Linked DNA regions of Homo sapiens. The protein of the gene in region 1 interacts with the protein of each later gene in a pairwise test. Each region holds a gene or a part of one and is shown in the gene's direction. Other genes may lie near its edges. The genes, in order: CARD10, BAHD1, ZNF415 and C8orf48.

Region 1 (8,028 bases):
TACTGGGGCTTGTGGGCACAGGCTGCGGGGTGGGGGATCAGGAAGGCCTGCAGCAGGTAGCAGGGCCAGGGCTTCTGGGCACAGGCTGGGTAGCGGGGCTCAGGAGGGCCTGCAGCAGGTACCAGGGCTGGGGCCCATGGGCACGGGGGTGGGGGGTGGTCAGGAGGGCCTGCGGTAGGTACCAGGGCTGGGGCTTGTGGGCACAGGCTGGCAGGAGGTCAGGAGGGCCTGCAGCAGGTACCAGGGCTGGGGCCCATGGGCACGGGGGTGGGGGGTGGTCAGGAGGGCCTGCGGTAGGTACCAGGGCTGGGGCTTGTGGGCACAGGCTGGCAGGAGGTCAGGAGGGCCTGCAGCAGGTACCAGGGCTGGGGCCCATGGGCATGGGGGTCGGGGGAGGTCAGAAGGACCTGCAGCAGGTACCAGGGCTGGGCCTCGTGGCCATGGGGGTTGAGGGGGGGTCAGGAGGGCCTGCAGCAGGTACCAGGGCCAGCGTTCATGGGCACAGGCTGCGGGGAGGTCAGGAGGGCCTGCAGCAGGTACTAGGGCCAGGGCTCGTGGACATGGAGTGGGGGTGGGGGTCAGACCCGGAAAACAGGCCCTCTTGCTGTTTGCTTATCCTCCCAAGGCCTGGGAAGCTGAGGATTTCAGAACCAGGGATCTGAGATCTGGATGGAGTCCCGGTAGCCTCTTGCCTGAAGCTCTGAGCTGAGGGCCCTTAGCACGTGGCTGTCCCTGGTTGTCTGGTCTAGGGTGTGTGAGCAGCCTCCAGAAGGTCCTCAAACTCCCTAAAACTGCCCCCCTGATTTTGAGTGTGAGCATTTTTCTGGGGAAAGGGCCCCAGCTTTAATTTGATTTGTAGAGGGTGTGGCCTGGGGGCCCTAGGGCTTGCTTAGTGTCCTGCGGCAGGTCAGTGGCAGGTCAGCAGCTGCATGGGCCTGCCTCCTGGCCATTGTTCCACACAGGAAGTGGGGGATGAGAGCCAGTGTGTTTCATGGGGTTGGGGCACTTGGCTGGGGTGTGGGTCTGGGGGCAAGATCTTGGGCCCAGGGTCTACCTGTATGGGCCAGGCTCAGCCCCTTGAAGACCCCTAGTCATGGGGGTGGGAGTAGGTCTTGGGAATGGCCTCCGTCTGCTGCCCTGGATGGTGGGTGAGGGCCAGAGCACGAGTGTGTGCCTGGTGCTTGTTTAGGAATAATCCTGGGTGAACTTGTCCAGTCACACCCTTCTCCACTTAGCTTATTAGCTTACTTGTACCCCAGATACTCCCTGGAGGGTGGGTAGGGCTTGTGGGGCCACACCCACTCTGCCGATGGGGAGACAGAGATCCAGAGAGGGTCGAGGCCCCGGGCCAGCATGGCAGAGCTGGTCAGGTGGGTTTGGAGGGCTGAGAGCTGCGTGTCCCCTTCCTTCCCACACCCAGGGTGGGCCCCTAGCCAGACCCTGAGGTGGCCCTGCCCTGTGATCCCCAGGAGGCGAGCCGGCCGGGGGCCCCGGGCTCCGAGCGCATCCTGCTGGACATCCTAGAGCATGACTGGCGGGAGGCGCAGGACAGCAGGCAGGAGCTGTGCCAGAAGCTGCATGCCGTGCAGGGGGAGCTGCAGTGGGCCGAGGAGCTGCGCGACCAGGTGGGGCCCTGCCCGTGCCCTGCCCCTTGTGCGGGAGGGTGTCAGGCAGGGCCTGTGTGCTCACGCCTTCCCTGAGCATCTGCTTGACGCAGGCGCCGCGCTGAGAACTGCATTCATTTGTTCTCAGATGTTGACGGAGGCACCCTTCTAGGCGCTTGAGATGCCGCAGTGAGCAAAACAAAGGTGCCTTTTCCTTGAGGGGGAACTCCAGCAGGGGAGACTGGCAGTATGTGAGATACACAGTCCCACGTCAGCTATTTCATGTAGTCAAAGGCGATGAGCACCGTGGGAGATGCAGAGCTGGGGAAGGGGCCGGTTGCAGTTTGAGTGGGGAGGCCAAGGGTGGCCGGATGGGTGAAATGATGATCATTCTTCTCGTTTTACAGATTAGGCAGTTGAGGGCCTGTGAGGTAAAGTCAGTGGCTCAGACCACTCCACTGGGCAGGAGGGGACTTGTTATTGGGTCTCAGACTGTTGGTGAGCGTCTCTCACTGGCCCTCCTGGGCACCTGCTGGTTAGCTTTCTCATGGTCCCCAGCCCTGTGGTCTGACCCCGCCCCGTGCCACCCTCAGTACCTGCAGGAGATGGAAGACCTGCGGCTCAAGCACCGCACGCTGCAGAAGGACTGTGACCTGTACAAGCACCGCATGGCCACTGTCCTGGCCCAACTGGAGGAGATTGAGAAGGAGCGAGACCAGGTGAGCCCAGCCTGCGTGTACGAGGCCCTGGGCCAGTTGCTGCTTCCCATATGGGAGGAGACAAGGAGCAATGGAGGGGACTAGAATGGTAGAAAGAGACGTTAGCCGCTCCCTGTTGGGTTAGGACGGGGCACAAAGGCTGGGGGAACCAGACAGGAGACCTGGAGCCCTTGAGATACCAGCCTTACACCCTGGACCCACTGGCCTCATCTGAGCTCCTGTGGCAGTTACAGAAGCTGGTCCTGGTGTCTTCATTTTTGAATCCCTTGTTCTGTCCATCTCAAAGACAAGGCCAGCACAGAGGGAGTGCTTACAAATAGAAGCCGATGAAGAAATTCTCAAAAGTTTTGGCTTTCAGTCCCTGGGCACTATGACCCTTGTCTCCTGCCAAGGTTGTGGGGTGGGCTGAGGACCTCCGGCCAGTGCCACCAGGCCCCCGAGCCTCCTTGTGTGAGGTTCCATCTGCAGCGGGGAAGGGCAGGAGGTTTTTGTCCTTAACCAGGTGTGAATCCCACTAGAGGAGTTGAAGTCTGTATATTATTGTTGTTATTACTTTTTGAGACTGAATCTAGCTCTGTTGCCCAGGTTGGAGTGCAGTGGTGCAATCTCAGCTCACTGAGGCCTCCCAGATTCAAGTGATTCTCCTGCCTCAGCCTCCCAAGTAGCTGGTATTACAGGCATGCCACCATTCCTGGCTAATTTTTGTATCTTTAGTAGAGACAGGGTTTCACTATATTGACCAGGCTGGTCTTGAACTCCTGGGCTCAACTGATCCACCTGCCTCAGCCTCCCAAAGTGCTGGGATCAAAGGCATGAGCTCCCATGCCCAGCCGAAGTCTGCATATTAGAAATGCCCTCAGAATCCCCTGGCAAGCTTGAAAGTGCAAATTTGGGGCTTCATTCTCTGGACGTTCTGATTCAGGTGGTCTGGGGTGGGCCCCAGGAATCTGCATTTTATGGGGCTGCCCCCGGCTCTCTCTGAGGCATGGGTGACAGGTCTGGACCATGGGCCCAGCTCTGGAGCCCCTGGTCTTCACTGTGGATGCAGTGGGCTGGGTTTGACTCCTGGCTTCTCCACTGACTGGGATGCTGGGAGTGAAGCCCCTGGCACACAGCAGGTCTCGTGGAAAAGTTTTCAGTTCTTGGTGAAATGGTGAGAGCCTGGATTCTGCAGATGGACTGCCCGATTTGAATCCCAGCTCTGTCGCTCCTGGCTTGGTTTCCCCAGTCTGCAGAATGAGAATAATGATATTAATAGTATCTAACTTAGCCAGTTAGTGTGAAGATATTTAAATGAGCTGATAATTTAGCTCAGGGCCCGGCACACAGTGCTCAGTAAGTGATAGCTGCCATTCTCCTTACTGTCCCCATTCTCCAAGTCATAGGCCAGGAAAGCTGGGCCAAGGTGGCTCCTTCAGCTGCTGCCTCCCCTCCCCCAACCCTAGGCCATCCAGAGCCGTGACCGGATCCAGTTGCAGTACTCACAGAGCCTCATCGAGAAGGACCAGTACCGCAAGCAGGTGCGGGGCCTGGAGGCGGAGCGGGATGAGCTGCTGACAACGCTCACCAGCCTGGAGGGCACCAAGGCTCTGCTGGAGGTTCAGCTGCAGCGGGCCCAGGGTGGCACCTGCCTCAAGGTGAGCGGGTCAAGATTGTGGAGGTCCTGGCAGGAAGGCTGGGGTCCTGGCAGGAGCTCTTGGCCAGGGCTGGGAACGTGCCGGCCCTGGTGGGAGACCTCAGCCAGGGGAGGAAGCTTGGGGGAAGTGGGAAGAGTCCTCAGTTAGGGGCGGGAACTTGAACCCAGGCTGGGCTGGGTGTGGGCTGGTGAGCAGGCGGAGGGGCATGTTGGTCTCTGAGTTTCTGGGGTTGCTTCTGGGACACTAAGAATAGTTTGGAGCTGGTCTTTGCATTTAACTGGGGAAGGCTGGCTGCCTGAGTGCCTGTGTGCATGTTAGAATGCAAAACCTGGGCCTCAGAGACCAGCTAGTCAGGACTAACATGGGCCTAAGCATCCCTCAGAGACCAGCTGGTCTAATCCTCTCATCGCACAGGGCCCAGAGAGGGTGAGGGGCTTGCCCAAGGCCACACAGCCAGCTAGCACTGGAGCTGGAGTCCCAGACCCACTGTAAATTGGATCGTGGTCCTCAGGCTGCTGCCGGGAGCTCTGCTTTTTCCTTTTTTTTTTTTTTTTGAGACAGAATCTTGCTGTATCACCCAGGCTGGATCCCAGGTTCAAGTTATTCTCGTGCCTTAGCCTCCCTAGTAGCTGGGACTACAGGTGCCTGCCACCATACCCAGCTAAGTTTTTTTTTGTATTTTCAGTAGGGATGGGGGTTTCACCATGTTGGCCAGGCTGGTTTCAAACTCCTGACCTCAAGGGATCCTCCTGCCTCAGCCTCCCAAAGTGCTGGGATTAGAGGTGCGAACGCCCAGCCTGCGTTTTCTTATTTTGAGTTGCCTGACAGTGAGCTCCGCAGGCCTGGTGTTTGAAGCACTGGGGCCTGGAGGAATATAGGAAAAGTCAGCATTAATCCAAGACTTTTTTTTTTTTTTAACCCCCAGTGGCTTTTTTGCTGTTTGGTAAAGACAGAGTCCCTTTTCATGGCCAAGAGGCCCTGCGGGTGGGGTTCCTCTTGTCCTCTCGCCTGGTTCTGTGGGTTCCAGTCTTTCAACTGGAATGCATCACAGTCCTGCCTCAGGGCCTTTGCACATGCTGTTGATCTGCCTGGACCATCCCAGCTTGACCTACTTAGCGCCTCTATACCCTTGAGTTCTCAGTTCAAACCACAGTTTCTTTGGAGAGTACTTGGACTCCCAGGCTGGGTGGGGTCTTTGTGTGTTTTCCATGCCCTGGGCACCTTCCTTCTGCTATTGTCTCAGCTTGGGGCTATTTTGTTCACATGTCTGCTGGTTTACAGTTTATCTCCCATTCTAGGCTGTGAGCTCCCTGAGGACAGGGATCTGTCCCTGTGCTGGCACATGGCAGGTGCTCAGTAAAGGACTGTGGTTGACGTGGGCCTAGCACTGCTCACCTCCTTCCTCTCCTCTCCCTCTTCCAGGCCTGTGCCTCCTCCCATTCCCTGTGCTCCAACCTCAGCAGCACTTGGAGCCTGAGCGAGTTCCCCTCCCCTCTGGGAGGCCCAGAAGCAACTGGGGAGGCAGCTGTCATGGGGGGACCTGAGCCTCACAACTCGGTAAGACAACTGCCCCATCCCAAATAAGGGGGGACACTGCTATAGCATTATTACTAATGTGGAGAGTGCTTTCTGAAGGATCCATTTCACAGGTGAGGACACTGAGGCGCAGGGAGGCCAAGTACTTTACTGAAGCTCACCCAGAACCATTTCCTTGCCAGGCATAGGTGCCAGGAGGCGTGGGGAGCCACCCGCACACTATAATCTTGCAGAGCCCGCTCTTCTGCTCTGGGCCCTACTTCTCATTTGTGGAATGGGCACAAACCAGGTGTGCTGAGGACTGGGATGGTGCTGGGCAGTGGGGGTGACCCAGGCCCTGTCATGGCATTGCAGGAGGAAGCCACAGACAGTGAAAAGGAGATCAATCGGCTCTCCATCCTGCCCTTCCCCCCCAGTGCCGGCTCCATCCTCCGCCGGCAGCGTGAGGAAGACCCCGCACCCCCTAAGAGGTGAGATGGCTGGGGATAGCAGTAGACACCCAGGGAGGTGGGGCTGCCGTTTCCCGAACAGCCACCTCCCAGAATCTGCAATGCCAAAGTCAGGTCCAGGCAGTCACTTCCCTTTATTGCCCTCAGATGGCTGGAGCTCTGGAAACCCAGGTCCTGTGAGTCACAGGGGCGACCAAGGTCAGGCTTAAGATAAGGCCGATGGGCAGAGCGAACTCAGTCCTAGCCAAGCATCCTGGCAGGAGGGTCACTGGGGGTCAAGCCTTGAAGATCCTATACCCAAGGAGAAGCTTGATGGTTCAGGACTAGGGGGCGTGGAGAATGTTTCAAGGTATCAGGGACCTCCGGCAAGAAAGCCAGGCCCCAGGTTTGGGCATCAGCAGCAAATAGGGACCAGAAAAACCAAGGCGCACCCTCTGGTGGCAAGACCAAGGGCGGGAGATAGCCTGCCTCCTGGGGCGCGATCCTTGTCACTGCTTTTCCCCTGTAAGCAGCCCTTGATTTATTCCTTTACTGGTGAGAGGCTGGGCCCTGGGAGGCTGTGGTCAGTATGGCCTTGATCTGCGTAAATCTGTCCCAAGGAGGTGTCTGATGAGGAGGTCATGGTTTAATTTAGGAGGCGTACCTGGGAGTCACAAACCACAAAGGTGGCAAGTGAGGGTGAGGTGAGGGGTGAGAGATCAGGGGTGGCTTCCAGGAGGAGGTGGCATTGAAAGAGCTGGCTTTGAAGGGCATGCCAGGGCATTGTAGGTGGAACAACATTGGACAGAGGCCAGGACATTAACTTCTTACCCTGGGAGTTTAGGGGAGCCAGGTGGCATGGGTGCCCTGTACCTGGGACCCTGCCTTGAGTCTAGCCTGCATTTGCTTGGGGGCTGTGAGACATTTATCTGGTGTGGGGGCAGGAGGAGGGAGCGGGGCAGAGTGCCCACTGTGCCTCACCTCCTGCCCCCTCCCTGCCCTCTCTCTGCCCAGATCCTTCAGCAGCATGTCAGACATCACAGGTAACAGCCCTTGAGTTCCGTGGGGAGGGCTCCTCTGGTCGGGGGAGGTGGCTTTGCAGCCCACCTGAAGCCTGCACCACCTGCGCTACCTTTGGCCTGCATCCCCTTCCCTGAAGCCCCGCCGTGGCCCCTGCCAGGCAGGAAGGTTGTGCTTGGGAGGACCCTGGGGACTTTGGTTCCAGCCTCTCACCCCGAGCCCAGTCCTGGGCCTCACTCCTGTTCCCGGCTGTGATGTACGAGGCTCTTCAGTTCTGGGCCACCTTTCACCCTCTTCTGGGAAACTGCGGGGTCAGCCTGGTGGGCCCTGACCTATCTCTGAGCCCAGTGGGTCTGATGTGCTCCTGGGGCCTCAAACCTGCCAAGGCCTCTCTGGGCTGGAGGGGGGTCAGTCCCTGTCATGGACCCTGGCCATCCCTGTTTCCCAGTGCCAGATCCCTGAACCTCATTCTTTTTCCCCAGGGAGTGTGACACTTAAGCCCTGGTCCCCTGGCCTCTCTTCGTCCTCATCCTCTGACAGCGTGTGGCCTTTGGGAAAGCCGGAAGGCCTCCTGGCTCGGGGCTGTGGCCTGGACTTCCTCAACAGGTACTGTAGCTGCCTGCAGTGGGTGGAGCTGGGGTGATTGCTTGAGAGGGGAACAGGAGTGAGGTGGGAGGAGCAATTGCCTCGCCCCTGTTTTATGCAACTATTGGAAGATTAAGATCTGTAGACACTGGCAGCCCTTGGATTCCAATCCTGCTGCCGCTCTTGATCGTCCCTGTGACTTGGGCTGGTCCCTTCACTTCTCTGGGCCTCCATTTCCTCAGTAGCTAAAGGGAGATGATGACCCTTTTTGCATGGAGGTCTTTTGAGGGCTCTGCTCGCAGAAGCAAAGCACCCAGCTCTGCCAGGCATGTAGCAGGTGCTTAGTAATAGTTGTCACTTACAAGCTGTCCTCGTCCCAATGTCCTGCCTGTCAGTCCCTTGGCTCTGAGTCCCTGGGACTGAGCCACCCAGCAAAGTTTCATGCTGTGGGTGGGCTTGGGTCACCTCAGGAGCCCCTGTGACCGGGCCAGCCACAGGT
Region 2 (8,028 bases), on another chromosome or scaffold:
CATTTGTCTCCTGTGTTAGTGCTTCTCTTTGATACTTTCTTTTCCCAACTGTTTGTGGCCTTCAGGGGTTTAAAGCTGTATGGCAGGTCTACGCACCGTCCCTGGGTTTTCTCTACCCCCAGGAATATGCTGATCCTGGCCTTACTGTTACCCTTGCCCTGGGTACTGGCACCCTTTGGGCTGCTCTTGCCTGGAATTTGAACCAAAGTTCAAATGAGACTTCTCCACCATGGGCCCCTCAAAGCTGAGACCTCTCCACCATGGGCCCCTCAAAGCTGAGACCTCTCCACCATGGGCCCCTCAAAGCCAGGCCTTCACCCTTGATAGAGCTTTTCCAGCTAGACCCAGGTTGTGGCAGTCTTGCTTTATATGCCAGGGGAGGAGTCCTCAGAGACTGAACTTTGCCTTCATGGCCCAGCAGGCAGGGTCCCCATCTCAGCTCTTCACTGTCTGTCTTCTTGTCCTCCTGTGGCCAACCTCAGAAGCCCTGCGTTTGGGGAGGGGATTGTTAATGCCTTGGTTATACTTTTGGAAGAATAGATGGACTCCTGGCCGGGGGCAGTGGCTCACGCCTGTAATCCCAGCACTGTGGGAGGCCGAGGCGGGCAGATCACGAGGTCAGGAGATCGAGACCACCCTGGCTAACACGGTGAAACCCCCTCTCTACTAAAAATACAAAAGAAAATTTAGCGGGGCGTGGTGGCGGGCACCTGTAGTCCCAGCTACCCGAGAGGCTGAGGCAGGAGAATGGCGTGAACCTGGGAGGCGGAGCTTGCAGTGAGCCAAGATCTCACCAATGCACTCCAGCGAGACTCCGTCTCTCAAAAAAAGAAAAAAAGAAGAAAGAATAAATGGACTTCTACCACCCAGTCCCCCATCTTGGGAGGCTCTGTCTTCAGAGCCTCTTCCTATCCTGTGATGAATATCTAGTGAGAGAAGGACAGGGGGAGAGAACAAAGAGCTTTGCCACCAGCTCCTCCTATCCCCTGTCCCTGGGGTCTGCCTTGCTCCCTAGGCTCTTCAGGGGCTTAGTTCAGAGATACCCTAGGCTAAAAGGAAAGAGGAGGAACCAGTCCTTGCACAGCTGCTGGTAGCTTGATTCCACTGCCCCTTCACACTCTGGAAAGGGAGTCCCAGGAAAATCCATACTGGAGACAGGGTAGTTGTAGGCCAGGATCACTGCACCTGGGGCTGGGTAGGCTGCAGTGGGAGAGAAAGCAGGCAGGAGCAGGCCAGAGAGGGCTTCTCTCATTGCCCACCTTCTGTCCTGCAGGTTGGAAGTACTCCATGACACACACTCGGAGAAAGTCCCTTCCCATGCTGAGTTCGGGCCTCACTGGCCGCCGAGAGCCCCTGCAGATGGAAGACAGCAACATGGAGCAGGGGGTTGAGGGTGTGGAGCCAGGCATGCCCGAGAGCCCAGGTCACCTCACAGGGCGCCGCAAGAATTACCCACTTCGTAAGCGCCCATTGGTTCCTGAGAAGCCCAAGGCCTGCAAAGTGCTGCTGACTCGCCTGGAGAATGTGGCCGGTCCCCGGAGTGCAGATGAGGCTGATGAGCTACCGCCTGACCTGCCCAAGCCCCCCAGCCCGGCCCCATCCAGTGAAGACCCTGGCCTTGCCCAGCCCCGCAAGCGGCGCCTGGCCTCCCTCAATGCTGAAGCTCTCAATAACCTGCTGCTGGAGCGAGAGGACACCAGCAGCCTGGCAGGCACCCGCCGCAGTCGAGCAGGGGATCCCCACCGCAGCCGTGACCGTGATCGTGCTACTGGGGGCTGGTCCTCCTCCAAGAAGCGGCCCCGGCTGGGGGACCTTGGAGGAGGAAGTCGGGACCTGTCTCCAGAGCCAGCACCCGATGAAGGTCCCCGCCGAGATGGAGACCCAGCTCCCAAGAGACTGGCTAGCCTGAACGCAGCTGCTTTCCTAAAACTGAGCCAGGAGCGGGAGCTACCCCTGCGGCTGCCTCGTGCCCATGCAGAAGTAGATGGGCGCTCCACTGAGCCCCCAGCACCCAAGGCCCCGAGGCCAAAGTGGCCCAAGGTCAATGGCAAGAACTATCCCAAGGCTTGGCAGGGGGCCAGCTCTGGGGAGGCTGCAGGCCCACCTGGCTGGCAAGGCTGCCCTGATGAACCATGGCCATCTGCAACTCCTTGTGGGCCATCCGTCCAGCCATCTCATCAGCCCCTGAGCAAGGCTCTGGAGAGCCCTTTGGGGCTGCGCCCTCACCTGCCCCTGCTGATGGGTGGACAGGCGGCTCTGAAGCCGGAGCCTGGGCGCCCAGGCGAGGAGTCACCTGCCCCTAAGCAGGAACTGCATCAGCCCTCTTTCCCCACACCTCAGCTGTCGCCGCTGCCGATGCCTGGCAACCCCGCCGACTACAATGGCCTGTGTGTTGGGCCTGAGCTCACTGCACTAGGCAGCTTCTACCTGTACTGTGGCCAAGAGGGGCTGCAGTGTGGGGGCTACTCGCCCTGCCCCATGCTTCCTGAGGGCAAGCTGTCCCCAGTGGCTGCACCTCACGAGGAGGGGCTCCTCTTAGCTCCGAGCTCAGTGCCCTCAGGCACCCCTTTCCAGCACCCTCCCTGGGGCTCCTCTCGCTACTGCTCTAGCGAGGACACTGGAGTGAATGGCTACAGCATCTGCGGAGTGTTGCCCCTGTCTGTTACCCACGCTGGCACTACCTGTGGCGGCTGCCCATACAAAATGCCTTTTGCAGCAGGTGAGGCTTCCTGGGCCCAAGATGTACTGGGGAGTCTCGGAGACATGGCATCCCAGGAGGTTGGGCTGTTGATCTGAGCAGGGGTCTCCCTTGGGGTCTGGCTGCTAACTGGAAGGTAGGGGGCTTTCAGAAGTGAGAACTCCCGTAGTCTGTGCCCCAAGCCGAGGAGCATTCCCAAGAACAGGGCCCGTATAGCTCTGGACAGCCTTGCTCTGCCCAGGCTACCTTTGGAGATTCTTGGCCTGGCAGTTAGGTAGCATTGCAGTGGTACAGGCCACAGGAAGGCCTCTCTTCTCTCCTCATTGGGATACCCGTTCTTAGACTCTGAAGAGCAGGTTAGATATTGGAATTAGGACTTTTACCAAATTGTTCTCACGGCCCTTCTACCCTCCTTGAGGAAAGCTAGAATTCCCTAGTTTCTAGAAACCAGTACTCTCTGCATGCTGGCCAAGTTCAGCATTCATGGGAAAGGTGGTAGGTACCAGGCTCAGTAGGTGGTACCTACTGCACAGGGCAGCTTTGCCCTGGCTATAGAGGCATTGAAAGAGAAGTGCCCAGACTGAGCATCACTTTGCTGGGTGTGGATAGAGAGGGTGCACCATGAGAACAGACAAGCAGAGTTCCCTGACATGGATGGAATGCGATCAGGGCCCACAGCTTTGGTGTCTGCCTGCCTGACAAGACCCAGACACCTGAGAGGCCCATGCTCCGGCTGTTGAGACACTCCCAGAATCATTTCTCTTCCCTAAACTGGCAGAGGTATCCTCACCTGCCTCTTCAGGCTCCCTGCCTGCCTCCTGGGTGGAAATGAGACATGCTGGCCAGCAGGTCTGCCCTGCTGCTGGGGAGGTGAGGGCTGGACCTTCCAGATCTCCCTTCCCCTGACATCCTTTCTTGTAGGGGTCTATAAAACAACTTTATAGACCAGTTGGCCCTGGCCAGACTGGTTGTTTCAGGTTGTGGCTTGAGTTAGAGTTCTTATGACATGAGAACAGGCTGCTGCTTGGGGTTTTCCTTCTTTTTTTGTGCCATTCCCCAAGTCTAGACCCTTATCCCCTCTCCCTAATAATAAGGACACCAGTAAACACCATGTACCAGGCACTGTTCTGAGTGCTTTACATATGGGAGGCTGCTTGGCATGTAATTGAGCACAGACTCCGAAGCCAGACTGCCTGGAGTGAAATGTTCTCCCCCACTTTCCTAGCCATGTGACTATGGGCGAGTCAGTAACTGCTCTGTGTCTCAGTTTTCTTAACTATAAAATGGGTGTAATGATACCTATCTCACAGGGTTTTTGTAAGGATGAAATGAGTTAATGTGTTCGTAAGAAAACCAGCCAGTTGCTCTGAGGGGCAGAGTGACTTGCCTGAAGTCACATGGCTAGTAAGTGGCAGAACCCAGGCTGATTCTAGAACCCCTATTCCCAAGCATTATGAAAGCCTTAGAAAATTAATATCAGGGCCAGGCGCGGTGGCTCATGCCTGTAATCCTAGCACTTTGGGAGGCTGAGGCGGGCAGATTGCCTGAGCTCAGTAGGTTGAGACCAGCCTGTCTAACATGGTGAAACCCTATCTCTACTAAACATACAAAAAAATTAGCTGGGTGTGGTGATGGGCACCTGTAATCCCAGCTACTCAGGAGGCTGAGGCAGGAGAAATGCTTGAACCCGAGAGGCGGAGGTTGCAGTGAGCCAAGATAGCACCACTGCACTCTAGCCTGGGCAACAGAGCGAGACTCTGTCTCAAAAAAAAAAAAAGTTCGGAGTTAAAAAGGATGTTCCAACCACCTCTCTTTCAGACTAAAAGGGGAGATGGCCAATCTCCAAGATCAGGAAACACCCCTGTCCCCTTAGAGAGTCACTCTGACAGTCCACCATAAAAAGGCCTCTGATCCCATCGGCCACCTCAGTGGCCTTTGGTTGCACAGTTAGAATTAAGACAGGAGCAGGCTCTGAAAGCAGATGGGTGATGGGGGTCACTGCTTGTCCTGTCCTGACCACTCTCTCCCTTTCCTAGAAGGCTGCAGATCCCTGGGCCAGTTGGAATTTCCTCTCCCGGAAGCTGGCCACCCAGCCTCACCCGCCCACCCACTCCTGGGGTGCCCTGTACCCAGTGTGCCACCTGCAGCAGAGCCCGTCCCCCATCTTCAGACACCCACCTCGGAGCCCCAGACAGTAGCCCGTGCGTGCCCTCAGAGCGCCAAACCTCCCAGCGGTTCTAAGTCAGGTCTGCGCACAGGCTCCAGCTGCAGGCACACTGCAAGGAGCAAGGCTGCCCGCAGGCCTAGCCACCCCAAGCAGCCACGTGTCCAGCGCCCACGCCCTCGCCGCCGCCGTCGCCGCCGCACTAATGGCTGGGTACCTGTTGGGGCTGCGTGTGAGAAGGCTGTGTATGTCTTGGTAAGTGCTAGCTCTTAGCTGATGACGAGAGGGAGGGAGGCAGTGGGGACACATGACCTGCAGTGAGGTAGGTGCTAGAAGCACCTGGTTCTAGCTACTCTGAGAGCTGACAAGGGACTCCAGTTTACTTGTACCCCAGGAACCAGTCATGCTGGCCCACCCAGCTTGCTTCCCTAGCCCCCTACTGATCCTGTACCAGACACCCCAGGGAGGTCAGGAGACACACAGTCATAGCTGGTGGCTGCCATCTCGGTGAGTGTCTTCCCCTCCCCTCCCTGCTCACTTTGTCCCTTACACCCTGGATTGTAAAGTGGAGGACTTTCAATGGAGAACTTTTCTGGATAAGTCTATATAGGGGGCGTTGGAATGGGCAGAGAAAATTAGTGACACAGAGAACATCTCGGATGATGAAAAGAGGCCAAGTGCGGTGGCTCACATCTGTAATCCCAGTACTTTAGGTGGTGGAAGTGGTAAGATCGCATGAGGCCAGGAGTTCAAGACGAGCCTGAGCAATATAGACCTCATCTCTACAAAGTAAAAACATTAGTTAGCCAGGCATGGTGGTGTGCACCAGGAGGCTGAAGTGGGAGGATTGCTTAGGTCCAGGAGTTCAAGGCTGCAGTGAGCTGATTGCACCACTGCACTCCAGTCTGGGTGACAGAGAGACCCTGGCTTTTAAAATTAATTAATTAAAAACAAAAAGAATATTAACTAAAATTTATTGAGGCTGGGCAAGGTGGCTCATGCATATAATCCCAGAGCTTTCAGAGGCTGATGCTAGAGGATTGTTTGAGCTCAGGAGTTCAAGACCAACCTGGTCGACATAGCAAGATCCTGTCTACAGAAAAAAAATTTTTTTAATTAGCCAGGCATGGTAGCATGCATCTGTAGTCCCAGCTACTTGAGAGTCTGAGGCAGGAGGATCACTTGAGTCCAGGAGGTTGAGGCTGCAGTGAACTATGGTTGCACCACTGCATTCCAGCCTGGGTGACAGAGTGAGACCCTGTCTCTAAAAATAAATAAATACATAAATACATAAAATTTATTGAGCACTTCTTAGATGCCAGAACTGAGCTAAGCATTTTGTAAGTATTATGCCCTTTAATCCTCACCACTACCCTATGTGGTATATATCCCATCTTCCTATAATTAATCCCATTTTACAGATGTGGAAGCTGAGGCTTAGCAATACTTTAAATAATTTGTCAAAGGCTGTGCCCCTTATAACAGTGGTTTAAGGGTTCAGACCGAGACTTGTTCCATTAGGAAGCATGAGCACTTACCCAGCACTGGGGGTCTTGGAGTGAGAGTCAGCTGTCGGGTATGGTGGTCAGAGCTCAGCCCCAGAAGCTTCAGGCCACTTTTCCACCCCTATTCCCTTTTCTCATCCTTTCTCCAACCATGAGAATTCCCCAGCCCCATCCAAAAAAGGATAGTGGTTTGACAAAACCAAGGTAGTGGTTTGACTATCTTGAGGAAATCGTGGAAAGGATGTCATTCCCTCTCTCTGTCCTTACTCTGAGTGTGGCTCTGCAAGCCTATTTGTGTCATTGGTTTGTTGCCTAGGATGAGCCGGAGCCAGCCATCCGAAAGAGCTACCAGGCGGTAGAGCGGCATGGGGAGACAATCCGAGTCCGGGACACCGTCCTTCTCAAATCAGGCCCACGAAAGACCTCCACACCTTATGTGGCCAAGATCTCTGCCCTCTGGGAGAACCCCGAGTCAGGTACCTCTCCCTCTGGCTGGGGACCCAAGGGGCAGCTGCCTTCAGCAGAACTGTAGTCCCCAGATTGGCCCCTGCCTGGAGTTTGACCTGGCGTGAGTCTCCCCGTGTTCCTGGCACAGAGTCTGCCTTCCACTCGGCTGGGGTCTCTCTGCTGCCGAGGGCTGTGGGTGACCTTGTGGCTTGGGTTGGATCAGCTCATTAACCTTTCCAGCCAGCAGAGCCTGGGCACCTGTCCCCCCACCTCACCTGTCAGTGCCTTCTCCCCCTTCTCCCTCCATGCCTAACAGCATTCCAGGCCTCTGAATGCTTGGCCTGGGGCAGGGGACATGGGTTGCCGGAGCCTGCAGGATTGAGGTTGGATGAACCTCCAGGGCAGCCAGCCAGCCTCTCTGCCTGTCTAAGTAACTCAGGTTGCCAGTTCAAGCCATAACCACTGTGTTGTCCTTCCAGGAGAGCTGATGATGAGCCTCCTGTGGTATTACAGACCTGAGCACTTACAGGGAGGCCGCAGTCCCAGCATGCACGAGGTGAGCTGCCTGGCAGATGGGTCAGGGAGGGCAGGAGAGACAGAGGGAAAGGTTATGGCACTAAGACGTGGTAGGGGGAGGGCAGCCATGGGCTGTAGTCAAATCCCTGCGCTTGTCACTTTGGACTCCAGAGAACCTGGGAAAGGGCCCAGGATTTATTCTCTTTTCCCAACACTGCCCCAATTCATGTTTCAAAGGGAATAATAACCTTTGTCTTAAAAAGAGGAACAGAAAGGGAACCCTTGAGGTAGCAGGTGCCAATGGGAGCAAGTGGATGTGTTCCCCTGGAAACAGGAAAGGTGAGGTGGAGCTGCATACCTGGTCACTTTTGGTATTTTCTGTAGTAGGGGAGGGGAGGGGAGGAAAGACTCCTCCTAACACCCCATAGGCTCTCCACCAAGCTGTGTGCTAAAAGAGGTGACTGCCATCTGTGTGTGCCCTGGGCTCACCTTTTATTTCACTTTCCCTTGCAGGGACTTTCCATCTAACTGGAAAGATGAAGAACATTTCCCCTCTCCTACGCTAGGCAGGGCTGGGGTTTGGGAGGTCAGTGACAATCAGGGGCTAGAGCAGATACCTGGCTATTCTGGAGAAGGGGGGGACCTAGAAGGGACTCAGGAGGAATGCCTGGAGGCAGTAGGTGAGGCATACTTAGGCT
Region 3 (8,028 bases), on another chromosome or scaffold:
CAATATCACCTTCTCAGCGGGGACTTCTGTGACCCACTTCCCATTTCACACTCCAGCTACACCCTCACCCCCACCTCTGGTCCATATTACCTCCTCTGCATGCTTCTCTTGATTCTTTCTGCTTCCACTGTCTGGATCCTGATGACACCAAGGTCTCAAGGGGAGAATAGAGTCAGAAGGTGGGGGCTATGCTGGGCTGACCACATGTGAGTAGAGCTACCCCCTGGCTTCATATGAAAGTGCTGGGGTACTTTGCAGATATACCTCTTGTGCCCCCATCCCTGTCCCAGAGATTCCCATTCACACAGGTTGGGACCCACCCTCGATAATACAGTGCCCAACATGATTCTAATCTATATCCAGCCCTGAACACCAAGGCTCTGTGTCCTCTATTTCTGAGGGCTGAGCCCAGCCTGGGATCCAGAGAGGGAAAGGGGGCTGTGCTCTGCATGGGGTTTAATCAGGGCTGGGTCTCCTCCCCACTGCTGCAGCATGTGTGTGAGCTTCTCCAGGAGGGGAGGGAGTTCTGAAGAAAGGGGTCAGAAGACTCATGTATTGGTTTTCCTGTAGGAGTTTCTTGTCCCTGGGGCCACCCTGGTGTAGTGGGCGGCAGAGGACCGTCTTTGCACAGGGCGAGCTCCTCCCTGTGTATGTGTGTGCTTGTCACACAAGAGGGGGTGTGTTGTTTCTAAGCAATAAACAGCACTTGTTGTTGTTATTCAGCATTGACTTCCAAAGACTCCTGGCACATGAGGAAGAAACCCAGAAGAGGAGAGCAAAGGAGTCAGGAATGGCTTTTACTCAGGTAAAGAAAGATTCTGTGTGGATCATTCTGTCTCCCTCTTTTCAGAAAGGTGGGAGACAATGCCTTGGAGCTGCAAATCTTCTCTGAGTCTGAAGCATCCTGCCTGACGCGTTTGCTCACATTGACCCGTGCCTTCCCTCAGTCCTTCTCATCTCTACTGAGATTCCGTCTCACCCTGACCCTGTGACATGAACTTCTGAAGAGTCCACTGGGCATGGTCCTGGGAAGGGCTCACACCCAGACATGGATGGAGACGGGGTGAGGGTCCCGTGGTGTCAGTGCTGTTGGGCAGCAGGGATTGTTCAGGGGCCACATTTGGATGCACTGTCGGCTCTCCGTAGCCCAGGAATAGAGAAGCTGCCCATGGAAGTCATGTTTTTTGTTGTTTTTGTTTTTTGTTTGTTTGTTTGTTTTTGAGATGGAGTTTCATTCTTGTTGCCCAGGCTGGAGTGCAATGGCGCAATCTCGGCTCACTGAATCCTCTGCCTCCCGGGTTCAAGTGATTCTCCTGCCTCAGCGTCCCGAGTAGCTGGGATTACAGGCATGCACCACCACAACCAGCTAATTTTGTATTTTTAATAGAGACGGGGTTTCTCTATGTTGGTCAGGCTGGTCTCGAACTCCAGACCTCAGGTGATCCACCCACCTCGGCTTCCCAAAGTGCTGGGATTACAGGCATGAGACACCGTGCCTGGCCTAAAGTCAGGTGTTAATATAGACAAATACCTGGTAAATCCTGGAAAAGGCAGCCAATAAGGGGATATATTTTGTGCCTGATTTTGTAATCCAGATAAAACTAGTATATCAGTATGTCTCTGACTCCACACTGTTAATGACTTGGAATGGAATGTAAAGTTGAGATACAGACATCAGTACTAGAGGGCGTTTTATTCCTTTATTGACTTTGAAACATAAAGTCAACATAAAAGTGTAACTGTAAGGCCGAGCACGGTGGCTCAGGCCTATAATCCCAGCACTTTGGAGGCCGAGGTGAGCGGATCATTGTAGGTCAGGAGTTTGAGACCAGCAAACATGGTGAAACCCCGTCTTTACTAAAAATACAAAAATTAGCCAGGCGTGGTGGCGCACGCCTGTAATCCCAACTACTCAGGAGGCTGAGGTAGGAGAATCACTTGAACCTGGGAGGCAAAGGTTACAGTAAGTGGAGATCGCACCACTGCACTGCACTCCAGCCTGGGTGACAGGGCGAGACTCTGTGTCAACAACAACAACGACAAAAATAAAGTATAATTGTAGGACTTTTTTTTTTTTTTTTTGAGACGGAGTCTCAGTCTGTCGCCCATGCTGGAGTGCAGTGGCTCGATCTTGGCTCACTGCAACCTCCACCTCCCAGGTTCAAGTGATTCCTCTGCCTCAGCCTCCCAGGTAGCTGAGACTACAGGCACCCGCCACTATGCCTGGCTAATTTTTGTAGAGATGGGGTTTCACTATGTTGGCCAGGCTGGTCTTGAACTCCTGACCATATGATCTGCCTGCCTCGGCCTCCCAAAGTGCTGGGATTACGGGCGGGAGCCACTGTGCCCGGCCAGCTGTAGGACTTTTTTTTTTTTTTTTTTTTTTTTTGAGTCTTCCTCTGTCACCCAGGCTGGAGTGCAGTGGCGCGATCTCAGCTTACTGCAACCTCTGCCTCCCAGGTTCAAGCAATTCTCCTGCCTCAGCCTCCTGACTAGCTGGGATTACAGGCACGCGCCACCACACCTGGCTAATTTTTGTATTTTTAGTAGAGACGGGGTTTCACCGTGTAGGTCAGGCTGGTCTCCAACTCCTGACCTCGTGATCCATCCACCTCGGCCTCCCAAAGTGCTGGGATTAGAGGCATGAGCCACCGCGCCCAGCCAAGTTTTTAAACCATTCTCAGCACTTGCATACCACGGAGATGGTGCTATTCCTGCAGGGTCTCTTAGGCATCAGATATTTTAGGTAAAAATGGTAACAGTTTTGCTCAGACATCAGAGCAGAACTCCTTTTTCATTAAAGAGGATATATCCATATTCTTATTATATGTATTGTTATTAAGTATTATGCTGCTTTTATTTTAAACATCACATGATGTATATATTTGTTTTATGGTGAAACTCTCAATAGAGATATTTAGTGCTTAGATATAGAGTATCCCTTTTCCTGTCAAGCCTTACACCCTCACACAGGTCTCAGTGGTGAGCCACTATTGTCAGTTCTGTGAGAACAGACAGCTCAAGCCCTGTTGAAATGTGTTTAATCATTGTGAGATTTTAGAACAATATTGTCAGTAAATGTTTTGTTAGGGTATTCTATCCTGCAAGTTGTGAATATTTACACGTTTTCGTATTAAGGAACAAGGATAGCTTGCTCCTTTTTCAAGTTGATACATAATATTGGTTCATATTTAAGGGGCAGATGTGATATTTTGTTACGTGTGTCATAGAATGTGTAATGATCAAGTAATGGTATTTGAAGTGTCTATTACCTTGAGTATTTATCATTTTTATGTGTTGGGAATATAGCAAAATATTCAATTTGCTAGTATTTTGATGAGGATTTTTACATCTGTGTTCAGGAGGGATTTCGGCCTATAGTTTTCCTTTTTTTTTTCTTTTCTGGTTTGATATCGGGAATGCTGGCTTCATAGAATGAGTTAAGGAGAATTCCCTCCGTTTCAATTTTAGTTTGAGGAGAATCAGTCTTAGTTCTTCTTTGAAAGTTTGATAGAATTCGGCAGTGAAGCCATTTGGTCCCAGACTTTTCTTTGTTCAGAGACTTTTTATTCCTGATTAAATTTCATTATTGGTCTGTTAAGGTTTTCTGAATCTTCCTGATTCAGTCTTGGTGCTTCGTGTCCAGGATTTTATCCATTTCCTCTAGGTTTTCTAGTTTGTTAGTGTGTAGTTATTTATAATAGTCTCTGATGATCTTTTATATTTCTGTGTTATCAGTTGTAACGTATCCATTTTATTTCTGATTTTGTTTATTGGGTCTTCTTTTTGATTAATCTAGCTAGTAGTTTATAGATTATATTATCTTTTTTAAAAATAACCAACATTTCATTTTGTTGATCCTTTGTGTTTTTGTAGTATTTATTTTGTTTAGTTCTGCTCTGATCTTTGTTATTTTTTTCTTTCTACTAATTTTGGGTTTGATTTGTTCTTGCTTTCTTAGTTCCTTGAGGTGCATTGTTAGACTGTCTATTTAAATTTTTTTTTTTTTTTTTTTTTTTTTTGAGATGGAGTCTTGCTCTGTCACCCAGGCTGGAGTGCAGTGGTGCAATCTTGGCTCACTGCAACCTCCACCTCCCTGGTTCAAGCGATTCTCCCATCTCGGCCTCCAGAGTAGCTGGGATTACAGGCACATACCTGGCTAATTTTTGTATTTTCTTTTTTTTTGAGACGAAGTCTCCCTCTGTCGCCCAGGCTGGAGTGCAGTGGCTCGGTCTGGGCTCACTGCAAGCTCCGCCTCCTGGGTTCATGCCATTCTCCTGCCTCAGCCTCCCGAGTAGCTGGGACTACAGGCGCCCACCACCACACCCAGCTAATTTTTTTGTATTTTTTTAGTAGAAGCGGGGTTCACCATGTTAGCCAGGATGGTCTTGATCTCCTGACCTCGTGATCCGCCCGCCTTGGCCTCCTAAAGTGCTAGGACTACAGGCGTGAGCCACTGCGCCCGGCCTAATTTTTGTATTTTTAGTAGAGATGGGGTTTTACCATCTTCGCCAGGGTGGTCTTGAACTCCTGACCTCAGGTGATCCACCCACCTTGGCCTCCCAAAGTGCTGGGATTACAGGAGTGAGCCACCGTGCCTGGCTTATTTGAAATTTTTCTACTTTTTCCAAGTAGGTGTTTATTACTATAAACTTCCCTCTTAGCATTGCTTTTGTTGTATTCCATAGGTTTTGACATATTGTGTTTCCATTTTTACTTGTTTCAAGATTTTTTTTTTTTAATTTCCCCCTTAATTTCTTCCTAGACCCAGTGGTCATTTAGGAGCATGTTGTCTAATTTCCATGTATTTGCCAGTTTTCAAAGTTTCTCATGGTATTGATTTCTAATTTTATTCCATTGTTGTTCTAAGAAGATACTAAGATTTTGATATTTTAAAAATGTGTTGAGACTTGTTTTGTGTTCTAATATGTAGTCTGTCTTGGAGAATGTTCTATGCGCTGATGCAAAGAATGTGTATTCTGTACTTGTTGGATGAAATGTTCTGTAAATATCTCTTAGATCTGTTTAGTCTAAAGTGCAGTTTAAATTCAGTGTTTCTTTGTTAATTTTCTGTCTAAATCAGCTGTCTAATGCTGAAATCCCTAACTATTATTATTTTTGGATTGTGTCTCTCCCTTTAAATCTAATAATATTCGCCCTATATGTCTGGATGCTCCAGTGTTGGGTGCATATATGTTTAGAATTGTTATATTCCTCTTATTGAATTGATCTCTTTATTAGTATATAATGACCTTTTTCATCTCTTTTACTGTTTTTAACTTAAAATTCATTTTGTTAGATTGAAGTAGAGGTACTTCTGCTTGCTTTTGGTTTCATTTGCATATAATACCTTTTTTCATATTTTCACTTTGAGTCTATTTGTGTCTTTACATTGACATGAGTTTCTTAAAGGTAGCATATAGTTGGGTTACACGCTTGTATCAATTTAGCCAGTCTATATCTTTTATGTGGAAAGTTTAATCCATTTACATAAAGTTCATTATTGATATGCGAGGGCTTATTACTGTCACTTTATTAATTGATTTCTGGTTGTTTTGTATGTTTGCTCCTTTCTCTAATTGTTTTTCATTGTGGTTTGGTGGTTTTCTATAATAGTAACATTTACATTTGACTCCTTTCCTTACTTGCATGTTTGCTCTAACAGTGGGTTTTATAGTATTGTGTGTTTTCATGACGGCCAATATTGTCCTTTTGCTTCTAGATGTAGGGATCCCTTAAGCATTTCTTGTAGGGCCAGTCTAGTGGTGAAGAATTCCCTCAGGCTTTGCTTCTCTGGGAAAGACTATTTCTCCTTTTTATGAAGGATAATTTTGCTGAGTATAGTATCCTTGGCTGGCAGGGTTTTTTTTTCTTTCAGCACATTTAATGTATCATACCATTCTCTGTTGGCCTGTAAGGTTTCTATTGAGAAATTTCCTGTTTTATGGAGCACCCTTTATAAGTGACTAGATGCTTTTCTCTTGCTGTTTTTTTTTAGAATTCTCTTTCTTTCTTTTTTTTTTTTGAGACGGAATTTCGCCCTTGTTGCCCAGGCTGAAGTGCAATGGTGTGATCTCGGCTCACCGCAACCTCCACCTCCCAGATTCAAGCAATTCTCCTGCCTCAGCCTCCCGAGTAGCTGGGATTACAGGCATGCACCACCACGCTCGGCTAGTTTTGTATTTTTAGTAGAGATGGGGTTTCTCCATGTTGGTCAGACTGGTCTCGACCTCCCAACCTCAGGTGATCTGCCCACCTTGGCCTCCCAAAGTGCTGGGATTACAGGCGTGAGCCACCACGCCCAGCCGAATTCTCTTTCTTTTTCTTTGACTTTTGACAGTTTGACTATAATGTGCCAAGAAGACATTTTTGGATTGTATCTCTTTGAGAATCTATGAAATTCCTGTATCTAGATATCTAAACCTTTTACTATACTTAGGAAGTTTTTGGTTATTATTTTGTTAAATAGCTTTCTATCTTTTTTGATTTTCTCTCCACCTTCTGGGACACCAAAAATTCAAATATTTGGTCACCTTATGGTGCCTGCCCCATATGTCACATAGGCTGTGTTCATTCTTTTTTATTTCTTTCTTTATTTTTGTCTGACTCGTTTATTTCAAAAGACCTGTCTTCAAGTTCTGAAATTTTTTCTTTTGCTTGATCCCTAGTTCATTGTTGAAGTTTTCAAATGTACTTTGTACACACATGCCTATAGTCCAGCTACTTGGAAAGCTAAGGTTGGAGGGTCACTTGAACCTGGGAGATTGAGTCTGCAGTGAGCCATGATCATGCCACTGCACTTCAGCCTGGGCAGCAGAGCGAGACCTTGTCTCAAACCAAAAAAAAAAAAAAAGAGAGAAAAAAAACCACAATTAGGGAGAGATATGTACTCAAAAATACCTTAGTGTGGATTTATCAGAACACACACTTCAATTAAATCTATACTTAAATTCTCTTTTATTCTTATTTTGTGTGAAGATGGTAACTCCCTTCATAACCTCTTGGTGAAATGTGTTTATTATTTTACGGACAGTTGACATTCAGGGACGTGGCCATCGAATTCTCTCAAGATGAGTGGAAATGCCTGAACTCTACACAGAGGACTTTATACAGGGATGTGATGTTGGAGAACTACAGGAACCTGGTCTCCCTGGGTGAGGATAATTTTCTTCCAGAAGTCAAAATCTGCCCTTGGTATCTTTCCATTTTCCCTTGTGTGCCTCTTGGGAGCCCCTGCATTACCTGACTGAGTTTGAGGCCTTGTTGACTCTGAAATGAAAAGCTCCATAATGTGAACTCTGGAGTTTAACCATCCCCTTTTTCCAGATTTTCTGACCCCTTCATGATACAACAGTGGTGGTTCCAGAGCTGAAGTATCCATGAAAGCTTATGGTAGACTTCTGAAATACTCACTTCTTGTTTTCTGCCCCTGTGCTTTGATTCAGTAGTTCTTGGAAGGGAGCTAGATATTTGCATATTACAGTCTTCCCTAAGCATTCAGAGTTGGCATTCAGTGAAATAATTTGTGAAATATTTTCCTAGATCCATCTGTGATAGCCTCTCTTCTTATCCAAGCAAAGGGCTGAGATTCTTGAAAAGCCACAGCACATCATGTTCCATTCATTTTATAAGCGGGAAATTCTCTTCCTGACCAGAGTATTATCCTATGTGGGAGCACAGGAAAGAGCCCTGGACCATAGAAAGCCAAGTACGAGTAGCAAGAAAACCAAAAGGGTGGGAATGGATCAAAGGTGTGAAAACAGGTAAGACCTCAGATGAGGGGAGAGGAAGCCACACCATTACACTATGTTTGGAAACTCTTAGCAAGTGGGAGAGTTCTGTAGGAAAACAAATGTTTATATCCTGTGAGCTCTTAGAGGAAATTTTAAACTTCCCCTACTTCTCCCTCTGCTCTTGAGACGTGTCATAGTTGATCCTTTTGCTGTCCAGTGGGGGCTGCAGCTCAAACAGAGACAAATGGAAGTGCTCATCATGATGGACAGCATTGCCCTCTGACTTCCGTGAACT
Region 4 (7,095 bases), on another chromosome or scaffold:
GATAGAACAGGGGATTCTGCACCTTGATTTTGGTGGTGGTTACAGAACCCATATATGTGTTAAAATTCACAGAGCTGTACACTAAAAGAAGTAATCGGGTCAATTTAAATAAAAAATAACTAACAAAATAAAATAAAAACTAGTGTAAACAATCCAAGGGCAAGTAGGAAAAAGATTGATACATTTGATATATGAGAGAAAAATCAAACTTTTACATGGCAAAACACAGCATAGACAAATAGACAAACTGAGAAGAGCTATTTGGAACCAAGTCACAGACAAATAAATAATATTTCCAACATATGAAGTGACTCTTGAGAATTGAAAAGAAAAAAACAAAATTTATATAAAAATAGGTAAAAGAATATATGGTACACATAAAAAGAAAAAGAAATGTAAGTGGCCTTTATGCACATGAAATGGTGTTCATTCTTACTGCTAATAAGAAGAATTCAATTTAAAATTACGCTGAGATATCATTTCTTATCCTTTAGATTGGCAAGAATCCATACATTTGAGAACATACCCTGCTGGCCAGGCTTTTGGGAACAGATGCTCCCATACATTGCTGGCAGAAATGTCATATGTGTACTGCCTGTGGAGGGGGATTTGGAAGTAAGTAGAAAACTACATATGTCTTCATCTTTGATATAGTAATCTCATTCCTAAAATTCATCTTGAAAATATATCTCCACAGATACAAAGCAAATTTTGATTTCTTATAATAGCAAAATGCCCGTCAAAATGTGTGAATAAAATACATTACATTTCTACAATGAAATACTATGCAATCTTAGAAATAAATGAGAATGATGTCTATATGCTGTTGTAAAGTGGTATCTAGAATATATTTTTAAGAAAAAAACAAAAAAAAAACGCCATAAAGCAATGTGTAGAGTATGTCAATGTGTTTTTATAACAAGAGAGGAACACATGTATGAGAGACGTATTTATATTTTCAAAACATTTTTGAAAGATAATCGAAAACTCTAAAATTATGATTATCTATAGGGAACGTAATGGCAAGAACAGAGAAGAAAACTAAACTTCTCTTCCTGCTCCTTTTTACTTTTTCATTTATAAAAATTATTTGTACTTCGGAAGTGTTAGGAAGTAAAACCTTTGAGGACTACGTTAGCCAAATGCAGTCAGTGGACCTTGTTTGGATCCTGATTCTAACACTTCAACTTGCAAAAAGGCATTCTTGAGGCAGTCAGATAAATTTGAACACAGAATAATTATTAGATGATATTAAGGATTTATCGTCACTTGCTAGATGTGGTCACAATGTGGCTGTTTTTAAAAAGGCCTAACTTGTAAGAGATATAAAACAAAGTATTTATGGACAAAAGAACATTATATCCTAGAAAAAATGATGTACAGAAACTATAAATTAAAATAATTTTTAAAAAATCATGAGTGATGTAAGATTCTTTCCTCCAGAAAGAATCAGCTCCTCACAGCGAGATTCCTGGCATCTTTAACTTAGTCTCTTAGGAGAAGAGACTTGCTTGATTCACAGAACCTTGCACAGTGACACTTGCAGAATTGGTGTAAAGGGTAGAATATTTTTGAAGGATCTGTCAATTTAATCTATAGAGGAGAAACAGATCTCAAAAGCATTAAAAATGTGCATACATTTTGACCCACGAATTATGATTTCTGGAATTTATCCTAAACATATAGCTAGAAATGTATGTAAAGATTTAGCTAAAGGAATAATTTTTCATAGCAAAAAAACTAGAAATACCTTGCATCTGAATGTATTTGTTAAACGAATCAAATAATGCAAAACCACCTTTAAAATTATGTTGAAAATAATTTTTACAATGAATGGAAAGGTTCATTTTATTACTAACTGGAAAAAATTGTTCATAAAACCAAAATTCAGTATAATCTAGATTTTAATTAAGAAATTCAAGAAAAATATTACAACACTTTATCAATGTTTATAGTAATTATCTTTGGGAAGTCAGAATATAGGTAGCTTTTGCTTAAAATCAGTATTTGTGGCTTATCATTTTCTTTTTTAAAAATCTGCAGTAAACCTATATTATTACTTTTGCAAAAAAATAGCTATTAAAGTAGAAGGCAGCTATTCACAAGGCAATTAATCAATTTCAGAAAAAAGATAATAACACCAAAGATGCAGAAAACAGAATAGAAAGATGGAGATAATTGTGAGGTAAAAACATTTTACAGATAAAGAACAAGTACTGAACCACAAAAAAATTGAACAACTATAAATAAAATCATTTTTCATCTTGAGTGATATACGATTCTTTCCTTCACAAAAATGGCCATTACAGTGAGATTCTTGTCACATTCAACTTAGCCCCCTAGGAGAACAGCTAAACATTTCATCTTGCTGCATCTACAGAACCAAGCACAGCGTTACTTGAGAAGTTGATGTAAAGGGTAGAATATTTTTGAAGGCTCTGTCATCGTAGTCTCTCTTATACTTAAACTAGACTCCCACTTTGTACACTGCACACCACCAGGAAGAGGTACCTGCCAAATGCCAACTCATCATGGAAACGTTTATGATATCTGGGGGGAGAATTGCTTGCCAGAGTGACAGATGCTGAAAGTTTGCTTTTCTCCCTCCATAGGAAAGGAAAGCAAGAGAGAAGGGGAATCATGAATTTGTTTTGACTTCCTCTTTCTGGGGTTGGCCTTATAGCTGCAAAGCATTCTTGATCATTAAGGAAAAAGCTGGGAGAAGACCCTTGGCCCTGCTCTCTGATAGGAACTAGGAAGAAGAGAAAGTAGCTGCAGAACAGTAACAGGAGGGGCATAGCAAGGTTAGGCCAAGAGAGCCTGACTGGACTCTCTTTTCTATTCTTCATATCTCCCAATCCCCACCACAAGCAGCCTTCAGCCACAGCTTGGTCCACAAAGCATTTTGACATTCCCAACAGCCCCTGAGAGATGGCAAGAAGATTGAGATTTCCAAAGGAAAACTATTACTCTTCATATTTGTTTAAAATCAAACTTTGACCTGTGTTTTCATGAATCTTATTTGATAAATATAGTACTGTTGAGAAATTTTCTTCCTTAGATAACACACTTACTAGAATGTAAAACTGTCCACTGGGTCACGCTGAATATTACAAGGAAATTAATTATAGAATTTCCCACCCACATATATCTCCTTCTAGGATAAAGTTATTTTTAAAAATCAAGAGAAATTTAAGACACGATTATAAAAAAGACAGATTACCCCAGACATTTGGCATGTTAGAAGACACAGATAGATTTTATTTTAAGTATAGCTCCCTTGTTCAATGTTATGGATAAGATATAGCTAAAACATGAATAGTGTGTAAATATGAATGTGTAAATATTCAGAGAATGAGGCAGAGATTTGAAATAATAAATAAGGAAAATATTGAGCCCTATTGGAAATTACTTGGAGTTACTCACAAATTACATGCCACCTCTTTTTTAAAGACTACCATTATATGATAAAATAAAATTTGGGTTGAATAAATGAAGTTGGAGTCTCCTTATCTTCAACAGGAAGCTGGCTCATATACTTGAGAGATGCTTTTTGAATATTTGACTTTCACTTTTTGCCAGAATGAACATTTGGGGAATATATCTGGCTAGACCTGAATAATACCCCCCAATCCCCAAGAAACACAGGAAGAAAGAGAGAGAGAGACAAAACTGAGAAAGAAGGGTGTCTAGGCTCTTAAAATTATCCTAGACATTGACTAAGTCCTAGACTCAAGAACTATTATAACCTAGGAAAAGTCCATCTCTAGAGTTAACATTTTATAATTTCTCACGATAATTAATAAAACTCTACTGTGTTTTTTAAATGAATCCATTAATAAAAAATATATCCTGTGTAATAGCCTAAGTTTGGGGATTCAGTTAGAAAAAAGGTTAGAGTTCCCTGAACTTATAGTACTTATTTCTCCAAATCCTCTGGACGTGTGTAAGGTAAGATTTATTTGTTCCATAGCCATTCACTCAACAGAGATTTCTTGAACACCTGCTATGTGTCTGCTGATTGCTGGGCTCATACTAGTCGGCAACACCGACATGATTTCTGCCTTCAGCCTTCATAATCAGATACTCATACAATCACATAGTTGGACACTATTTAAAAAAAAATGCTGGAAAGAGTTTAAGGCAGGGGTGGGTATTAAGCCCTTCCTGAGGAAATGGGACTCGGAGGAGGAGGATAAATTAACGATATTAAGAGTGAGGACGGGCGTGGATATGCTAGCCAGAGGGGACCTGTATGGACAAAAGGCCAGAGAAACTGATTTGGAAAATTAAGGTCCTCCCCCGCCCCTGCTCCCCACCCCCGACCCCGCCCAAACTTCGAGGTCCTCAGAATGCTGGAGCACAGAACACTACTTCTTACAGAATGGTTTCTGTATTTTGACTTTTCCCCAAAGACATGCTCTACAAGGAGGTGTCTCTTGGCTATAAACACTGCAGACAAGTTTTTGCTTGTGCATCTTGTCCAGCGCGTTTTGCTTGATTTTTAAATCTAGATGCATTTAGGCGGGCGTACACGTTCGGATTTGTCACAGGCCACCTAACTCTATTGGTCTCACACACGTGTGCCACCTGTCTGACCCCTGGGAAACAGAGTTTGCAAGGTTTTCCCGTTGACTACTCGACTTTAGCACCAAAGAGAAGCAGGAGTGCAGAAGACAGGGCAAAATCGCCAACCCGGCGCAAGCAGCGCAAGCGCAGTGGGCGCTGGGGAGCGCGGAGGAAAAGGCGGGACGCCGCATGGTGGCCAGTCACTGCGCATGAGCGGCCCGCGTTGCCAAGACAGCTGGGAAGGCGTCTCCCGGAAGACGACCTCCGCAGAGCTGATGGCATTGAGATCCATTCCCGGAGGGGTCAGCTCCTGACGGGTTCCTGAGCCAGTCTTAACCTGGGCAAAGGAGATGAGGAGCCGAGCCTGATGCATTGTGATGGCCATCTGCCCAGAATTGGCCCAAACGGACAAAAGTGCTCTTGCAAACCTTTCTGATGAGACTGAGACTTTGAAGAACTCTACTGATGAGGTACAGACTTCCAGCTCATTCAGCTCCTCTGGAGGACGGCAGTCCTCGCCCCTGACCTCTGGGAGCAAACTGGAGAGGGAAAAGCAGACTCCAAGCTTGGAACAAGGAGACACACAATCTGAGCTTTTGGACTATAAAAATTATGAAAAGAAGTTGAGTAAAAAATGGATCAACTACCTCAAGCTCAAAGACTCTAACTTTGAACGGCACCAACCAGACACCAAACTTCCAACAGAAATCACTCGGGTATCAGATGAAGAATTGAATGCCCTGCAGTCTTATTGCACCATGAAGATAAATTTGATTCATCGTAGAGGGGATTCTAAGAAGAAGACGAGCAGCAGACATAAAAAGCTGCATCTTGGATTGGATGTAGAGGCTTCAGAGAGAGATGCCTTTAGTTGTACTGTACCCGATGAACTTTTGAACAGAATCTACTTTAAAAACATGAGGACAACGCCAAAACAGGAGGCAGCAGCTAAGCAACACATATCTTATCAGTGTCCCTATTGTAACAGGAAAAGAGCGGAGCTGGCCCTGTCTGCCTTTCTGAAACAAAAGAAGACTTTACTGGAGTCATTTCTACTCCAAGAGAGAATAGATGAACATCTTCATACCAAAGACTTTCTCACCCGTATTGGAGAAGCACATCAAGACTTTCCCAGGCTTTCAGATGACCCCAGAATAATCTGGAAAAGACTGACTGAGAAAAGTCATATCAGATACTCTGGTTTTGAAAGATCAGAGACAGAGCAGAAGTTGCAGCGAGATGGAAATAGTGCTTGTCATTTACCATTTTCTCTGCCATTTCTCAAGCGACTTACTCTAATCAAACCAGAGCTGGTGATTGTTAATGATAATGTGTAATGTGGATAGATGTCTTTGTTGTGTATTTGAGTAATTACCATAATTTCTACAGGCACTTGGGAAACTAACTTAAGACTTTACTATGCTTCCTTCACAGATTTGAGGACTAAGAACTTTCACTTTTTTTTTCCTATTATAGAAGGCACTGTTGTAGTTGGAATAGTTATAAAAACTTTTACAAAATTCCAAGAGAACTATGTTGGTAGTTTGGGCCAGGATGTTGATGGTACAGAAGCAAAGTAGTATGGGGATGTAAGAGAAACTTAAAAAGTAATAACTGTCTTTGGCGATCAAATGGCTATGGGGAATTAATAAATAGTAGATGTTTGAAATGTTATTAAGGCTCTGACTTGTGCGCCCGGATGAATGATCATTAATTTCATTAAGACAGGAACACCAGAAGAGGACTATGTTTGATGGAACTGTTGAAGAGTATGATTATTTGGACATATAAGGTGCATTTGGGACATACACATTGACAGTTTGAAGAAACATTTGATTATTTGTTTTTGCGCTTCAGAGGAAAGGTATAGCCTAGAGGTGCAAAATAAATTGGGGTAGGACTGGGGGAAGGGTGGGGATCAATGGCATATAGCTGGAAGTTGAAGCCGTAGATTGTCAAGCGTTTTTGGAAATGAATAAGAAGAGAAGCAGGGTTGATACAAACTCTTGAGAAATGCCAATTAATGGCTAAGTAGAGAAAAATAAACCTGCAGAAAAGATTGTGAAAAAAGTTATCAAGTGGATCAAGGAAATCAGGAATGTATAGTGTCATAGATGCTAAGGAATGAATATTTAAAGAAGGATAGTTGTCTAACCACATCAATCAACAGAGAAGCCATGTAAAGATGATTTAGTCATGTATTGGGCACTGCTGACCTTAGCAAAAGCCATTTCACTTATACAAATGGGGCAGACAAAATAGATTGAGGAAAAATGTAAGTAAATAATGAATGGATATAGGGTACTCCTTGAAATATTTAGCTGTAAGGGGAAGAAGAAGTAAAGCTGGGGTTAGGTGTTGAGTTTTGAGAGAAGAACGCTTAAACAAATTATCTAGATAGCCATTTTGGTCGTGAAGATTTTATGAACCTTCTGTTGTTCATCCAAATTTATGTAATGAGGAAACAGTATTATTCCACAAGGAATACCATGGCATTTTGAAAACACATTTATGGAGAAAAATGTT

What was found.
Region 2: the proteins of CARD10 (region 1) and BAHD1 interact in binary tests that used the Homo sapiens proteins (3 or more experiments, as listed by UniProt).
Region 3: the proteins of CARD10 (region 1) and ZNF415 interact in binary tests that used the Homo sapiens proteins (3 or more experiments, as listed by UniProt).
Region 4: the proteins of CARD10 (region 1) and C8orf48 interact in binary tests that used the Homo sapiens proteins (3 or more experiments, as listed by UniProt).

The regions. Positions count from the first base shown.
Region 1 is NC_000022.11:37,502,124-37,510,151, reverse strand, and holds part of CARD10 (caspase recruitment domain-containing protein 10), read left to right. Parts: intron 1-1,469; coding exon 1,470-1,625; intron 1,626-2,197; coding exon 2,198-2,323; intron 2,324-3,768; coding exon 3,769-3,960; intron 3,961-5,382; coding exon 5,383-5,517; intron 5,518-5,850; coding exon 5,851-5,966; intron 5,967-6,938; coding exon 6,939-6,967; intron 6,968-7,426; coding exon 7,427-7,550; intron 7,551-8,028. UniProt on the Homo sapiens protein: Scaffold protein that plays an important role in mediating the activation of NF-kappa-B via BCL10 or EGFR.
Region 2 is NC_000015.10:40,457,178-40,465,205, forward strand, and holds part of BAHD1 (bromo adjacent homology domain-containing 1 protein), read left to right. Parts: intron 1-1,273; coding exon of another isoform or gene 1,274-1,287; coding exon 1,288-2,719; intron 2,720-4,734; coding exon 4,735-5,117; intron 5,118-6,683; coding exon 6,684-6,843; intron 6,844-7,293; coding exon 7,294-7,370; intron 7,371-8,028.
Region 3 is NC_000019.10:53,115,439-53,123,466, reverse strand, and holds part of ZNF415 (zinc finger protein 415), read left to right. Parts: intron 1-723; coding exon of another isoform or gene 724-790; coding exon 791-805; intron 806-850; exon of another isoform or gene 851-1,048; coding exon of another isoform or gene 1,049-1,063; intron 1,064-7,033; coding exon 7,034-7,154; intron 7,155-7,542; coding exon of another isoform or gene 7,543-7,586; exon of another isoform or gene 7,587-7,611; coding exon of another isoform or gene 7,612-7,763; intron 7,764-8,028. UniProt on the Homo sapiens protein: Involved in transcriptional regulation. Transcriptional activity differed among the various isoforms. All isoforms except isoform 3 seem to suppresses the transcriptional activities of AP-1 and p53/TP53.
Region 4 is NC_000008.11:13,562,046-13,569,140, forward strand, and holds C8orf48 (uncharacterized protein C8orf48), read left to right. Parts: upstream 1-4,823; 5' UTR 4,824-4,946; coding exon 4,947-5,906; 3' UTR 5,907-6,243; downstream 6,244-7,095.